2 separate regions of the Homo sapiens genome follow, and region 1 is linked to region 2. Evidence: fine-mapped expression QTL. A gene starts in region 2. The other region holds a variant in brackets. All regions are shown on one strand. Distances are from middle to middle.

Evidence for each region.
Region 1: its variant is fine-mapped to the expression of CD83 in whole blood (TOPMed, PIP above 0.99).

The regions. Positions count from the first base shown.
Region 1 is chr6:14,090,225-14,093,253 of GRCh38, forward strand. No RefSeq gene overlaps it. Among named protein-coding and RNA genes, the nearest start is that of CD83, 26 kb to the right of the region's middle. The variant C/T (reference allele first, on the strand shown) is at 1,227.
Region 2 is chr6:14,116,521-14,119,248 of GRCh38, forward strand. It overlaps CD83 (CD83 molecule), which reads left to right and starts at 1,252. Exons shown (of 5, transcript NM_004233.4): 1 at 1,252-1,328; 2 at 1,430-1,545. The coding sequence starts at 1,292. RefSeq lists silencers at 578-872, 1,000-1,119 and cis regulatory regions at 615-1,523, 863-1,679, 863-1,518, 1,684-2,184, 1,755-2,581 and 1 more.

The sequences.
Region 1 (3,029 bases), 26 kb before region 2:
GAGGAGCAGGAGGCAGCGCTTTTTCTGGAACCATATTGCAATGATTAACTCTCTTGATTCTTATCAGTCTCTTCTCTCAATCCGTGGAACTGTTTCTGGGTTCAACTGGGGTGATTTGGCTTTATGGAGTGTTCCCAAATGTGTGGTTTATGAGATAATTTTATGTCCTGATACCTTCATATTTATCGCAGGTGAGAAAGTTCATTTTGAGGCAGATGAAGTCACTCTCCAACCTTGACTTAGTGAAGAAGTGGAAAAAGGAGAATTTGTAGGATTCAAAAGCTGAAACTTTCTCCTCTAGGCTAAACTGGCTCTACAAAAAAAGCAAGTTTTAAGCAGAAAAGGGCAAAATAGGGATAGTTTTAGTTCGAGCTGCTATAACAGAAATACTAGAGACTGGGTGGCTTATAAATGACATCGTTGCTCACAGTTCTGGAGGCTGGGAAGTCCAAGATCAAGGTGCTGGCAAATTCAGTACCCGGTGAGGACCTTCTTCCAGGTTTATAGATGGCATCCTCTCACTATGTCCTCACATGGTAGAAGCAGCAAGAGTGTGCTCTCTGGCCTCTTTTAGAAGGGTATTGATCTCATTCATGAGGGCTTCCCCTTCATGACCTAATCGCTTCCCAAAGGCCCCACCTCCTAATACATATTGATACATGAATTTGGTGGCAAGGGGAGAGACACAAACTTTCAGTCCCTAACAGGGATCTTCTGGCATCTCAACCCTAGTAGGAAGATTGCAGTAACTTGTGTGGGACCAAATCGAGAATTTCTAACAGGATCTTCTGTTGGGTGTTGGGGAGATGGCCTCAGTTTGGGGGGCAAAGTGGAGATTGAGCATATTCAGCTCTTGTTTTTAAGACTACAGAACACATTCCAGATAGAGAGAGTTTGAGACAAAATCCACACCCACCCCGCTCCCAAAACTGGATCCACAGAGGTCCAACACAGTGGTGAGAGGCTACGCTGAACTCACTGACTGTGCAGCCTTGGAGTTTGGGAAACAGACTTAGGTTTCTGTGTGCCTAGAAAGCATGTATAAACAGTACGACCCCTCTCAGTTTCTGAAAAGATCTGATACATGTCAAACACCCATTCCATCATCTCTGGTCCTGCCTTAAGTAGTGCTTCTTCAATTTCAAGAGATGTTACTCCATAGCCGAGCATTGACTGGGTAATAAACTTTTGTGACTTGTAATAAAAGGTGTGTTCACACACACACA[C/T]ATGCAGGCGCACACACACGTTGTCTACATAAATGATTGACTTGGGCAAGGCATCTCATTCTCTTTATTTTCTGTTGGAACCACATAATTTTCTTTTCTCTCACTCTTGGTTTCTCTCTCATGTGTCATGCATTGTGGTGTTATAACTAAGTACTATTCTTGCTATTATCACCAAGGAATAGGGAATAGAAAATCAGGCTTTTTTTTTTTTTTGGTATAACTGTTCTCCTTTTTTCAGCCTCAATGCATTTTGAAAGAAGTTGGAAGTTAGAACACTTTCTGAAGTATGACTGTTTGCTTGTTACTTAGCTTGTCTGATCCTTGTAAAATAGGAATAATGGGAATATTGACTGGGGAGAAAAAGGGGAGATGCAAATCTGCACACGTGACATCATCCTATTTATGTTAAAATATATACATAGAGACTTACTAGCATAAAATATGCCAAGATATTCATGGTGGTTATCTCTGGGCTGTGAGATGATGGACAAATCTGAATTTCTTCCTTATATCACCCAGTTTGATTGCTCTTTTCACTAAATTTGTTCCCAAATGACTTTTTCTGTTTCCAAAATCGTATTCATTCCCAAAGGACAAAGAGTTGCTGCCTTTAATAATATATTTTTTTAAATGGCTTTGAAGGAAATCATAAAAAGATTTTCAGCACAGTTTTGACCACTGGCAATTCTTTGGAATAAATGAATAAGGTGGCTGATTTGAAGGAACAAGATTCACTTTGACGTATAATTTCTGGAATATTGCAAAATCAGTTGTGGTGCTTTGATAGCTATGCCCATACTTGGAAGGAAAGCAGGCTTATCCCATTGTTCTTTTGGTGTTTTTTTGAACTCCAGATCAATATAACATGCGATTGTAGTAATCTGACCAGTCATCTGGAAAGTTCCAGTATATGAAAAGTAGATTTGTATTTAAAAAAAAAAAAACACCCTTTCATTGAATGCTTTAATATAAAACAAACCTTCCTGACTTGTTTTATAAAAAGAGGAACTATACTACATTTGAAACTAAACTGTGGGAAAAAAAATGTGGTTCTGAAGAATATTCTCTGGTCTTAAATAGAGAATATGAAAATCAAATATGATCAGCTGTCATACACAAAAGTGTATTTTATTAATAAAAATGAAACAGAGCACTGTAAAATAGGAAGTAAACATTAGCTTTACACAAGGTTTTGCTTCATAGTCCTTTTAAACTTAATCTTCGCCAAAGGCTGAGAAGCGATTCACAGGCCTTTTAAATAGGTGGCTTCACTATCTCTCACTTATTTCTATTGATGTATTTTGGCTGGGAAAGAGAAATGCTTATATTCAATATCTATGGAATTGAGAATTTGAATATTATCTTTATCAAAAAAGATAAGGCATATGACATTGAGTATTAATAGATCAGAAATATTTATTTGATTGACAACTCAGTTACTTTTGCTTCTCCAATGGACACTCCATAAATATTCGAATGCGTCTTATGTCTACTGTGTGCATAGCCTTATGCTAATTCCATGAATGCAATGGTGATGTGTTTCCAGCTAACATCTGGAAGCCTTATTCTGCCAAAGATGAGAGATCACGGTACAGAATGTTCCTAATAAGAGTATTTTATTATCCATCCTGTACTCGCATGGTCCCTGTTCTCAATGACTTTATAGTCTTGTTGATAAGGTTTCAAACATGCAAGTATTGAGTAATATGTCAGACTGACTTCTAGAAAACGTTTTATTGACTATGATCAGGGGCCCAAATATAGGACACCAAAAAGAAGGATTTAGGGTGGACAAGTTGTAGA
Region 2 (2,728 bases):
TTGGATGGACAAAGATAGAAAGGTTGGATAACAGTTTGTGTTGGCAAACAGGCACTCTCTTTGCAGATGGGAATATAGATTGAAGACACCTCCTTGCAGGTAATTTTTTGGCAATATTTGACAAAATTGGAAACTCCCCTTCACCTAGCACAATTTCCTTGAGGTATTTATTCTAAGAAAATAAGCAATTTTAGAGCAAAGATTTATCTACACTGAAGTTTCCCATAGCAATCACAGTATTGTTTCTAATATTAGTAATACAAAAAGAAACAACCTGTATGTCTAACACTAATCGATTCTAATTTATGGTGCAACTGAACAATGGACCAAAATGATGCTGTTGGAAGTTTTTAATGATGTGGAACCGCTTGCAAATTATTAAGCTAAAAGAAAGTAGGTTACAAGATAGCAGGAAGAATAAACCATTAAAAATACCAATCTGTGCACTGACAAATGTTATAAATATTTTACGTTATGTTATGTTATAAACATTTTATAATATAAAAAAATGTTAACTGAAGTTACTTCCTGGATGAATTACAGGTGATTTCATTGTCTTCTAGAATTTTCTTTTCCAAAAATGTTGTGTATGCGTGTAATTATTATTTTAATAGGAGACACTCTCCTTTGGTGATATAATTTAAACAGGACGGTACTGACTGATAACCTCCCGGGGAAGGCAGGGAGCCAAGTACTACAGACTTGTATGTTTCCATGGAAATCTAACGCGCCTTTGATTATCACAGATTCTGGAGAAGAGTGAGGACTTGGGTTCACCAGTGCGTTCCCAAGGACAGGCTGGGCTTCTGAGGAAGTTGCCCACCCTCTCGGAATCTGGTTTGGCCTCCGTAAAATGGGCAGATCCCGCTCGGATGGCCCGGTTCCCGGCTTCCTTTTGCGGGTCAACGGCAGCGTCACGCGCGCGAGCGCGGTCTGCAAAGCCCCCAGCGCTGGGCGTCACGCGGGGATTGCTGTCGCCGCTGCCAGCCGCAGCAGCGACGCGAACTCGGGGCGCCCGGCCCGGGCGCGCGGGGGCGGGGACGCGCACGCGGCGAGGGCGGCGGGTGCGACGGGGGCGGGGACGGGGGCGGGGACGGGGGCGAAGGGGGCGGGGACGGGGGCGCCCCGGCCTAAGCGGGACTAGGAGGGCGCGCCACCCGCTTCCGCTGCCCGCCGGGGAATCCCCCGGGCTGGCGCGCAGGGAAGTTCCCGAACGCGCGGGCATAAAAGGGCAGCCGGCGCCCGCGCGCCACAGCTCTGCAGCTCGTGGCAGCGGCGCAGCGCTCCAGCCATGTCGCGCGGCCTCCAGCTTCTGCTCCTGAGCTGCGGTAGGGCTCGCGAGCGCCTGTCTCGCCTGTCGCCCCCCGCCCCTCCACGACACCCCCTCCCGTCGGTCGCTTGCTCACGACGCGCTCTCTCTTTCTTGTAGCCTACAGCCTGGCTCCCGCGACGCCGGAGGTGAAGGTGGCTTGCTCCGAAGATGTGGACTTGCCCTGCACCGCCCCCTGGGATCCGCAGGTTCCCTACACGGTCTCCTGGGTCAAGGTAGGTGCTGCGATACCCACGGGCTGGGGTTTGGTGGGCTCATTTGAAGACAGCAGGAACCATCTCCCCTAGGCTGGCGACCCTCTGTGGCTGCCAGGTGGGGGCGAGGGGCGTCTCCCGCAGCTGAACTTGGAGTACCCAGCCTCCCGTCGCGCCTCCCCCACCCCATCCGCATCCAGGTACAGGGCCGAATTAGGTTTTGCTCTCCGCAGACCTCAATCCCCTTCCTGTCACTGAAGGTGGCCTGAGATGAATGATCCACTTAAGATGTTTTGGAAGGGCAGAGACTCTCATTTGGATTAATTCTGGAGGCCACCTGTGGTTGTGGGCCAGCAGGTCAGGAAGAAAGCAACAGGGACCTAGATTTGGGCATTGGACAGGGGGAATGTCTCCAGACTTCTGATTTCTTGTGTTTTGTGACTGTGATGCCCATGATACATGGGAGGGGGAGGGGGCAATTTGAAAGGAAAGGCTAAGACACAGAAGTGACTTAGGCCATTTCATCCATGGTAGTTATCAGTGGTCATCTCCTTTGTGGGATACCCTTGGCTTCCTCCCCTAGCCCTCCTCCTCCTTCCTCTGGCAGCCTTGAGAGCATCAGGTGGATGCATGAGCCGGAGCCCGCATGTGTAAGAACAGGCCTTGCTGCTCCTACTGTAAGTGGACTGAGTGACAAGGAGGCTTTTTCAAGGTTTCCTCTTGACTGAAACATTCTCAGATTCTAAGATGGCAATGATGGTGTCATTCCAAAGCCAAGCAGCTACTGTTTGATATCACTGGTCCTTCTTTAAGTCAGGCCACTGCTACCACAGCACCTCCATTTTAACCCAAATGAATATGATATTACAACCTTACTCTGTAGCTCTCACTGATTTGCTGTCTTACCACGGGGGCAAATCTCTGCACTTGTAGCTTTCCCCAAAATGCAGGGCGTTCTTCTGCCCACCATAAAAGATACTATAAGAAACTGTACGTCTTTGGCCACTTAACAGTACAAGGCATCATTGCGGTGATCTCTTTGTGTGTGTGTCTCCTAACTGGATGGTCAGTTCCCTGGGGGGCAGTGGCTGTATCCATACTTCTGTGTATTCTTCACGGCACCTAATTTTTGCCCTATAAATTGCAAAGGTGCTCTGTGAATTCAGCCCAGCACTTCATGAGTTATGCATGACGGGGATGGTGC